2 separate regions of the Homo sapiens genome follow, and region 2 is linked to region 1. Evidence: fine-mapped expression QTL. A gene starts in region 1. The other region holds a variant in brackets. All regions are shown on one strand. Distances are between the middles of the regions. Region 1 holds the start of TFAP4 (transcription factor AP-4). Region 2 has its middle 16 kb from the start of GLIS2.

Evidence for each region. PIP is the estimated chance that this variant, and not a neighbour inherited with it, causes the effect.
Region 2: its variant is the best candidate, but not a certain one, in a credible set for the expression of TFAP4 in blood mononuclear cells (TOPMed, PIP 0.89).

The regions. Positions count from the first base shown.
Region 1 is chr16:4,269,999-4,275,363 of GRCh38, forward strand. It overlaps TFAP4 (transcription factor AP-4), which reads right to left and starts at 3,025. Exons shown (of 7, transcript NM_003223.3): 1 at 2,660-3,025. The coding sequence starts at 2,748. RefSeq lists enhancers at 1,242-2,218, 1,760-1,949, 2,850-2,899, 3,196-4,171 and silencers at 2,030-2,189, 2,550-2,599, 3,320-3,969.
Region 2 is chr16:4,296,889-4,302,253 of GRCh38, forward strand. No RefSeq gene overlaps it. Among named protein-coding and RNA genes, the nearest start is that of GLIS2, 16 kb to the right of the region's middle. RefSeq lists an enhancer at 1-720 and a silencer at 2,220-2,514. The variant G/C (reference allele first, on the strand shown) is at 2,862.

The DNA of each region.
Region 1 (5,365 bases):
CTATGGTGAAACCCCATCTCTACTAAAAATAAAAAAATTAGCCAGGCATGCTGACACATGCCTGTAATCCCAGCTACTTGGGAGGCTGAGGCAGGAAAGTCGGTTGAATCTAGGAGGCGGAGGTTGCAGTGAGCCAAGATTGCACTCCATTCTGGGTGACAGAGTGAGACTCCGTCTCAAAAAAAAAAAGACTGAGTGTCATTTTTACAGCTACCAGGCACTTGCCATACCCATAGCTAATTTTCTCACAGGTGCTCTGTTTCCCAGAGACTGAGAACCATTAGGCGACAGGTCCAAAACCTGCAGCTTGTGTGTGCAGCACCGTGCCCTACAATCCCCTCTGGCAGGCCTGGGAGACAGAAAGACAGGGAGATCCCTGCTGGTCACTGAGGGATGGAGCAAAGCCCACCAGCCTGAGATGACCCTGAGAAGCAAATGCATCTGGCCAGAAGGTCCTGCCTAATGAACACATTTGATCCCAGACTGGCTTCCCACCTCACCCTGCAACCCCTACTGAAGGTAAACAAATCCAGGGACCCCCAACTCCATGCCTAATGCACAGCTGACAACTGTCTTGCAATGGACGTTGCCATGTCCAACCCTGGACGAAGGCCCTACACCTTCAAGTCCTTGGCCTACCAAGATCCAGCTACCCTGGGGGACTGCTGGTATGCTCCAAAGGAACGCTTGGGGCAGGGATAAATTGAAGCCAGAATCTCAGGGGGCCCTGAGAGGACTCACCCAAGGCCCAGGCATGGCAGCCAGAGGGCCCCCCAACCCTGCCCAGGATCAGGCCCAGAATGTCTTCTCCAGTAGGCACAGCGGCTCAACTGCACCTCCGCGCTGCCCAGCCCAGCCCTGCAGCAGCAGCAACCCCAGGACAAGGGTTCAAGTTCCAGTTCCACCACCTGCTGTAGTGGTCCCTTCTCCAGTCTCTGTGTCCGCCTCTTTAAGCGGAATCAAAAGACACTTTTGACTCATAGAAAGATTATGACAACTCAGTGAGAAAATTCTAGCAAAGTGAGTCCCCAGAACATAAAAAGAGCTCAAGAATTTTTTTTACTTATTATTACTGGGCCCTCCAGGTGGGCCTCGTGCAAGGGCCAGCCCTCGGGGCATCCCTGCCAGCTGCCAAACCCATCAACTGGCCCAAGTCTAGGTATTGACTGGGAACTTCAGAGTAGCCTTAAGGTGGGGACCCCCGGGGCAGAGGGTTGGGCAGGAGTGTCTACACGTGTGCAGCAACCTTCCCTCCAGGCCGGATTCTGCAGGCGCTAGCGTCCACCAGCCTGTGCCACACCGGCGGGCTCCTCCTCCCTCAATCCCCGCCCAGACTGCCTCGGGCGGCAGAGCACGTGGCTCCAGCCCTGGGGAGCCATTTCGCTCCTGGAGCAGCGCGGCAGGAAAGGGGCCACAGGTCCCAAACTTGCGCACGCCGTAGAACGCCCACCTCCCCCACACCACGCCCAGGGGGTCGTTCAAAATGCAGATGTCCGGGCCCCAGCGATCAGAGTTCCAGGCATGTGCATTTTAAGAAGTGTGCGGGGTGGTTTGGCTGTGTGTGGTCCTTGAGTCCATCACCCTTTGGGTTTAGAGCAACCTAGGACCAAAGCTTGCAAAGTGGCTTCTGGGGAGGCCTGCGGACCTCGGGCCACCCACCCGGCTGGGGGACCCGACGCTTTCGGTTTACGGCAGGGGGGAGGGGCGTTGGATGGGAAAGTTTGCAGAGGAAACCCACGTGCGGCGGGAAGCTGCCCTGCGAGGCTAGGGGCGGCCTCAGGTGTCCCTTCCCCAAATGGCCTGCCCACCTGGCCTGCCTTGCCCATCGTGCCCGCGGGGGCCGAGCTTTGTGCAGGGAAAGCGTGGCCCAGGAGCGCCTACAAATCCCACAATGCTGCACCAGCAGGACACGGAGAACTACAGCTCCCGCGAGGCCGCGCGCAGAGGTCCGCCTACTCCAAGAGGGCTGCAGAGTCACGTCCAGGCCTCGCTAGTAAACAGCGCCCGGGCGCGGGCGGGCGAGCGAGCGGCAGCCAACGTGCCCCGGGCCGCGGCGCCCCTACCGGCCGCGCGGGCCCCTCGGGGTCCGCCCACCCCCAACACCCACACGCGAGCACGCCCCCGACCCCGCTGCAGCCCCGCTCTGCAAACACGCACAGTGCCCGGCTCCCCGCCCCCACCCCGCGCCGGGAGCCGCGGCATGGCTGCATTGTAGCCGCCCTAGCTACACCCCCACGCGCGCCCCGGGCCCCCAGACCCCCTTGGATGGGGACGACCTCAGATCCCGAGGAAGGAAGGAGAGGAAGGAAGCCGCCGCAGGAGGGGGAAAGAGGAAGCGCGGGGGGGAAGGCCACCAGCACCAAGCATGGCCGGGACTGCTGCAGAACCACGTGGGTCTGTTTGCAATTTACAAACGTCGCGACTCGCCCGCCTGCAGCGGACAAAAGTGGCCGGGGCCGCTTGGGGCCCCCATGCTCCAAGGAAGGAGGGTCCCGGGGCGGCGCGGACCCGGCGTGTGGGGCTGCAGCCGTCCCGGCAGCTAAGAAAGGCTAGCGGGGTCGGCGGCGCGGGCCATGCGTGCGCACACGCGCGCCCGCCCGGGCGGGCTGGCCGGGGGCTGCAGTGGTAGGAAGGGGGTGGGGGGAGGAGGAGTACACACCTACAGAGCCCTCCTATCACTTCTTTCTCTGTTTTCCTGAAATGTTGCAAAGAGGGCACCTTCTGAGTGGGCACCATGAAATACTCCATAGCGATCGGCCCCCCTCCTCTGCACGAGCCAGGTCCCGCGATCAGCCGGAGAATGCAAGATGGAAATCCGAATCAAAGGGCAGCGCCGGACGGAGGTGCAGAATCGGCCGGTCCCAGATGCTGGCGGCGGCGGCGGCGGCGAGGGGAGGGAGGCGGGCGGGAGGGGCGGGAGGGAGGTCTCTCCGGCCTGCCTCCCCGGGCGTGTGTATGTGTGTGTGTGTGTGTGTGTGTGTGTGTGTGTGTGTGTGTGTGTGTGTTTGCAGCTGATCAGATGTCTGTTTCAAGGCGGGAAACAGCTGGTGAAAACTCAGCACTCCCCCGGCCTCCTTCCGCGGAGTAAGGAATTGCATGTAAACAAAGGACTATTTGCAGCGCCCCCCGGGCGGCGCGAGGCCGGGGCGAGAGGGGCGCGGGCCCCCGGGGACCGGCTGCAACCGGGGTCTGCAGGCCTCTCGCGGGGCGCAGGGGGCCGGGGGCCGCGGGCGGGCTTGCGGGGCGCGGCGTGAATGGAGCGAGCTGCGGCCGAGCTACATGCGCCACTATGGGTGATGAGGTCCATCAGCTGACAGGTTGGCAAGCGTTGCAAAAAAAAAAAAAAAAAGGCCAGCCACCGCGCAGGGAGCCCAGCCCGTGCAGCCCGGAGTCCAGCAGCGACTGGCCCAGAGCAGGGTCCGCGCGCTCGGCCGGCCCGCAGGGAGGAGGGGGCGCGGCTGGGTCGGGCGTGCAGCGGCAGCAAGGAAGGCGGCCTGGGGTTCGCGCTTGGGGCTTCTGCTTTTTCACCATTGCAGCTGCACGGAGCGGAGCCTCTCCGGTGTGCTCCCTTCGAGCCGAGCCCAGGGCCCCCTGGAAACTTGCGTCACAGCCACCGCTTCCCACATGTAACTCGGGGCTGACTTCGGAGGCCGGCCAGCTTCCTCCCTCCCGCCTTGCTTAGCTGGCCGCACGGCCGGGACTCCGGATCCTGGGAATCTTGGACCCGGCGACGGGACGGCAAAGGGCGCCTCGGATGCTGGGGCCGCCCTAGGAAGCCGGGGGCCCCGGCAGGGAGGGGAGGGTGGAGGCGGGCCTGAACGGCAGCGGCCCCCGGGCGCAGGCTGCCAGCGCTGCGGGGAGGTCTGCTGGTTGCTGCCGGGTCCCCTGCTATTCCCCCAGACCCGCACTGTTCCCTCCGCGGGCTGAAGGCTGCAGCTTCCCATTCATAACAAAGCCCGTGTGGGACTTGCCCCTCCGCCAGGATGCGCTCCCCAAGAGGGGGTGACGACTTGGGGCAGGGACGGGGACCCTGGCGGCGAGCTTCCGTCCTCCGCTCGCACGCCGCACCTTCCGGCCCCAGGCCCTCCCCTGGCTCCTGGAGGGTTGGCTCCTGGCTCAGGAAGCCCACGCCTGCCTTGGAATGTCCTGGATCCTGCCCACCGCCTTCCAGGTTCCGCCTAAATCGCGCCTCCTAATTTGACTTATTCCTACTAGTAACAATAGTTACTGTTATTATTGGGAAATATTGTTATTAGATGTTGCCAGCACCCGGTGGATGCCGAGCAGTTTTGCTTACACGCTCTCCAATCCTTGAAGCAACCTGTTAGGCAGTTTCTCTAAGGAGAGATCCCAGACCACTTGACCAAAAAAAAGTCTCTGGAAGGCTTACTATGTTTCTACTTAAAAAAAAAAAAAAAAAAAAAAAACTTTCGGCTGGGCGCGTTGGCTCACGCCTGTAATCTCAGCACTTTGGGAGGCTGAGGCGGGTGGATCACCTGAGGTCGGGAGTTCGAGACCAGCCTGACCAACATGGAGAAACCCCGTCTCTACTAAAAATGCAAAATTAGCCGGGGGCCTGGTGGCACATGCCTGTAATCTCAGCTACTCGGGAGGCTGAAGCAGGAGAATCGCTTGAACCCGGGAGGTGGAGGTTGCAGTGAGCCAAGATCATGTCATTGCACTCCAGCCTGGGCAACAAGAGTGAAACTCCGTCTCAAAAAAAAAAAAAAAAAAAAACCTTTTTACTGTTTTTCAACAAATAGAGATAGGAGTCTCACTGTGTTGCCCAGCCTGGTCTTGAACTCCTGGGACTCAAGGAATCCTACCTCTACCTCCCAAATTGCTGGGATTACAAGCATGAGCCATGGATGGCCCTGGTGGGAAGCCTATTTTTAACTGCCCTTAGTGAGCAAGCTATTCTTTTTTTTGTTTTGTTTTGTTTTGTTTTTTAAGACGGAGTCTTGCTTTGTCACCCAGGCTAGAGTGCAGTGGCACGATCTCGGCTCACTGCAACCTCCGCCTCCTGGGTTCAAGTGATTCTTCTGCCTCAGCCTCCCAAGTAGCTGTGGTTACAGGCACACACCACCAAGCCCGGCTAATTTTTGTATTTTTAGTACAGATGGGATTTTGCCCTGTTGGCCAGGCTGGTCTCAAACTCCTGACCTCAGGCGATCTGCCCACCCCGGTCCCCCAAAGTGCCAGGATTACAGGCATCAGCCACCTCACCCAGCAGTGAGCAAGCTATTCTGGTGCATTACTGTCTCCTTATCCTCTCATTTTGCACATGGGAAGACAGAAGCTCACAGCTGCAGACAAGAATGCACTCAGGAGTGCTGGCTGCAAAAAGCCCTGGTTCTTTATATCA
Region 2 (5,365 bases), 27 kb after region 1:
TTATATTTTTAGTAGAGATGGGGTTTCGTCATGTTGGCCAGGCTGGTCTCAAACTCCTGACCTCAGGTAATCCACCCACCTTGGCCTCCCAAAGTGCTGGGATTACAGGTGTGAGTCACCCTTCTGACCCACTCCCAGGTTCCAGGAACAAGAATACAGGTCCTCTAATGGACAAAGCTCATTCAGGGACCCTCCAATGTGAATCGACCAGACACAGTCCTCATGTGTCATGGGAGGGGGACAGGCAGCAGCTCCTGGAGCGGAAGGACGCCTGGCCCCTCCTCCGGCCCCAGATGCAGCTGCAGGTACAGGGAGGGCCTCCCAGGGCAGGCCAGAGCCTGCAGGCCCCCAGCTGCAGCCCCAGCTGGGACCAGGCTTCTAACCTCACCCCTTTCTTGCTCCTCCCGCCTCCACCATCTCTCCTGTGGAGCCCCCAAGACTCTGGAGGAGAAATCAAATACAAAACTCCTAGGAGAACAGAAAGGGGGCTGCTGCTGCTGCGTGCAGACACACTCATGCACACCCACGCACACACATGCAAACACACACATGCACACCATCCTTCGAGCCCACAGGCAGATCACAGAGAACCTAGATGTCAGGATGAGAAAGGAACTAGACGTGAGCTATCATCTGCCTCCTTGGGGCAAGGCCTGTGCCAAGGGATTTGCCAGGATTGTCTCATCCAATCCTGAAAAGAAGCTTGGAGATTTCAGAGATGAAGAAAATGAGCATCTGAGAGCTTAAGGGAGAGACTCAACCAAAGGGACACCTGGGGACGCTAAAGCCCATGAAGCTGAGCACAGGGCCTGGCAGCCAGCATGGTGGAGGCAGCTTAGCAGAGCTGGGGGGTCGCTCTTGTATTTATGTTTTTTTGTTTTGTTTTTGAGATAGGGCCTTGCTCTGTTGACCAGGCTGGAATGCAGTGGTGCGATCAAGGCTCACCGCAGCCTTAACCTCCTGGGCTCAAGCCATCTTCCCGTCTCAGTTTCCCAAGTAGCTGGGACCACAGGTACACACCACTATGCTCATCTAATTTAAAAAAAAATTTTTGAAAATACAAAAAAATTAGCCGGGCGTGTGGCAGGCACCTGTAGTCCCAGCTACTTGGGAGGCTGAGGCAGGAGAATGGCATGAACCTGGGAGGCAGAGCTTGCAGTGAGCCGAGATCACGCCACTGTGCTCCAGCCTGGGCGACACAGCAAGACTCCCATCTCAAAAAAAATTTTTTTTTGTAGAGACAGGGTCTTGCTATGTTGCCCACGCTGGTCTCCAACTCCCAGGATCAATCGATCCTTCCACCTCAGCCTCCCAAAGTGCTGGGATTCCAGGCGTGAGCCACCACGCCTGGCCGGTGTGGTTCTTTTAAGGGACAGCCCCCCTCATTTCCATTTGCTCCATGGGGCTACAGGGGTATTGCCCTGTGCTGGGCAGGCTCCTGACCCAGGCCTGTCCCATCAGGAGTACGGTGATCGCTACAGGGCTGGGTTGGGACCCAGCTCCAGCCAAAGAGAGGCAAACCTAGGATTCTGCTGGAACCCGTGGTAGACACAAGCTGGAGGTTCACAGGTCTGTGACATCAGGGCCTCCTCTCAGGAAGCGCTGGCCCAAGAGCAAAGCGAAAACGGAGGAAACCTGGCTGGGAGATGCAAGCCAGTGTTCCTGTGAGCACTGGACCCAGCTAGACCCTCGGCCTCTGCAGTTACACGAGCTGTCAAGGAACTGGTCTTTATTTCATTTATTTACTTATTTATTTATTTTTTAATTTGTTTTTGAGATGGGGGGGTCTTGCTCTGTCACCCAGGCTGGAGTGCAGTGGTGCAATCTTGGCTCACTATAGCCTCCACCTCCTGGGCTCAAGCAATCCTGCCTCAGGAGTAGCTGGGACTACAGGCCCGCACCACCACACCTGGCTAATTTTTCTATTTTTTTGTAGAGATGGGGTCTCACTATGTTGCCCAGGCTGGTCTCAAACTTCTAGGTTCAAGTGATCCTCCCACCTCAGCTTCCAAAAGTGCTGGGATTACAGGCATGAGCCGTTGTGCCTGGCCCAGAAACTGGTCTTTGAATCCAGGTCTGAACGCTGAAGCTCATGCTCTCTTCCTTGCGCCCCAGCTGTCCGCATAGAGGCTCTGATAGATCAGGGGCTCAGGCAAGTCTGGGGAGGGGGCCTCACCTCCCTCCCAGCCCCTGGAGGGAGTGTTGGACCCTCTCACCCCCCTCAAAGCAGTTCCATTGCTCCCTTTGACCTTCAAAGTTGGCATCTGCTTGCAGGAATCTGTCTCTCTCCTCCTGGAATTCAGCCTCCAGATGTCAGATCCGAGGCGGTGGCGGCAGCATATGGCTCCCCTCAGAGTGAATCAGCCACATTCCAAAGGTGCACACACAGACGCCACACCCTCAGCAGCCTGGCTGCAGACTTCCTCCCAGCCCCAGCACCCGGCACCCGCCCCAGCCCCCACCTCTTCCCAGCCAGACCCGACTTCGGGCTTCCTTTCCAGAGACTTTCTCCTGGAACTGGAACAGAGAGAAAGCCACTAGGGCTGGAGACACCCTGAGCAGCCCTGCTCTGCTCACTCGCTCCCAACCGCTCACAGCTGTTATCAATATATCTATGGTGCATCCACTCAACAGGTGTGCACTGAGCACCTATGATGTGGCAGACAAGATACAGACAAGCCCCGAACCTCACGGAACTCAGCTGGGCAAGAGCCCAACAAAATCAGGTCCAGAGGCAGAAAAGAATTCCAAGTGTGGGAAGAGCTATAAAAGGAAGAAACAGGCCTGGCGCGGTGGCTCACGCCTGTAATCCCAGCACTTTGGGAGGCTAAGGCTGGCAGATCATGAGGTCAGGAGATGGA[G/C]ACCACCCTGGCCAACATGGTGAAACCCCGTCTCTATTAAAAATACAAAAATTAGCTGGGTGTGGTGGTATGTGCCTGTAATCCCAGCAACTCGGGAGGCTGAGGCAGGAGAATCGCTTGAACCCAAGAGGCAGAGATTGCAGTGAGCCGAGATCACGCCATTGCACTCCAGCCTGGCGACAGAACAAGACTTCATTTCAAAAAAAAAAAAGGAAGAAACAAGGGCTCAGACACGTGACAAAGTGACAGAGGGAGGGTTATGGGGTGGGGGAGGCTTATCTTGGGGTAACTTGTAAGCTGAGGTCTGAAGGATGAATAGAAACGTCCTCTATCGGCTGGTCATGGGATTGCACACCTGTAACCCGGGAGCTCCGGGAGGCCCAGGCAGGAGGACTGCTTGAGTCCAGGAGTTCAAGACCAGCCTGGGCAATATAGCAAGATCCCATCTCTACTAAATTAAAAAAAAAATTTTTTTTAAAGAAACCTCTTCTATCCCGTCACTTCTGTAATCACTTCACGAGAATTACAGAAATATAACCCAAAAATATTTTCCCCAGTCACTCAGGAAGTTATTGGGTCCTCTTCTCCTGCCCCTCTTTTTTTTTTTTTTTTTTATCACTGAAGCAGGGAATCTGGCTAATTTTTTTAATAAGACCTTTGGTGAGGCCGGGTGCAGTGGCTCACACCTGTAATCCCAGCACTTTGGGAGGCCGAGGTGGGCGCATCACGAGGTCAGGAGATCGAGACCATCCTGGCTAACACGGTGAAACCCCGTCTCTACTAAAAATACAAAAAATTAGCCAGACATTGTGGCAGGCACCTGTAGTCCCAGCGACTCGGGAGGCTGAGGCTGAGGCAGGAGAATGTCCACCAACCTGGGAGGTGGAGCTTGTAGTGAGCCGAGATTGTGCCACTGCACTCCAGCCTGGGCGACAGAGCAAGATACCGTCTCAAAAAAAAAAAAAAAAAAAGAAAAAAAAAGACCTTTATTGAGATATAATCCATATAATTCACCACTTTACAATTACACCACAGTAGATGATTCAGTTGTTTTTAAATATCCACAGATCTGTGCATCTATAACTGCAATTTTGGAATATTTTCTTTTTCTTTTTTTTTCAAGACGGAGTCTCACTCTGTCACCCAGGCTGGAGTGCAGTGGCATGATCTCGGCTCACTGCAACCTCTGTCTCCCGGGTTCAAGCGATTCTCCCGCCTCAGCCTCCCAAGTAGCTGGGACTATAGGTGAGCACCACCGGGCCCAGCTAGATTTTTTTGTATTTTTAGTAGAGACGGAGTTTCATCACGTTGGCCAGGCTGGTCTCGAACCCCTAACCTCAAGTGATCCACGTGCCTTGGCCTCCTAAAAGTGCTTGGATTACAGGCATGAGCCACTGCAACTGACCAATTTTGGAATATTTTCATTAACCCAAAAAGAAACTCCACTTAGCAGTCACTCCCCGATGCTCACCACCACCCCAGGCCCCAGGCAACCCCTAAGCTACCCTATCTTTTTATTTATTTATTTTTAGAGACAGAGTCTCACTGTGTTGCCCAGGCTGGAGTTCAGTGGTTTGATCATAGCTCACTGTAGCCTCTACCTCTCAGGGTCAAGCAGTCCTCTCCTCTCAGTCTCCCGTGGAGCTGGGACTACAGGTGGGCGCCACCACACTCAGCTAACTTTATTTTTTTTTAGAGATAGGGGTCTCACTCTGTTGCCCAGGCTGGTCTTGAACTGCTGGTCTTGAACTCCTGGTCTCAAGTGATCCTCCTGCCCCAGCTTTCCAAACTGCTCATGCCTGTAGACGTAAGCCACTGCCCCTGGCCCTTAATCTACTTCCAGTCTCTATGGATTTGCCTATTCTGGAAATTTCATATGAACAGAAACACACAACATGCGTCCTGTGTGTCTGGCTTGTCACTGGGCATAATGCTTTCAAGGGTCATCCATGTTGTAGTATGTATTGGTGCTTCGTTTTTTTGTTTTGTTTTGTTTTGTTTTGAGACGGAGTCTCACTCTATCTCCCAGGCTGGAGTGCAGTGGAACGATCTCGGCTCATTGCAACCTCCGCATCCCAGGTTCAAGCAATTCTCCTGCCTTAGCCTCCCAAGTAGCTGGGTCTGCAGGCATGTGCCAACATGCCTGGCTAATTTTTTTAGAGACAGGGTTTCACCGTGTTAGCCAGGATGGTCTCGATCTTCTGACCTCGTGATCCACTGGCCTCGGCCTCCCAAAGTGCTGGGACTACAGGCGTGAGCCACTGCGCCCAGCTGCTTCGTTCCTTTTTATGGCTGAATCATATTCCACTGTTTGGAGAGACCACAGTTGATTTATCCATTCATCAGGTGAGGGACACATGGTTGCTTTCACTTTTTGGCTCTTATGAATAACACTGCTCTGAACATTCCCATGCAAATTTTTGTGCAGATATGTTCCCATTCCTCTTAGATATACACGATATATACCTAGGAGGGGCACTGCTGCGTCATATGGTCACTCCATG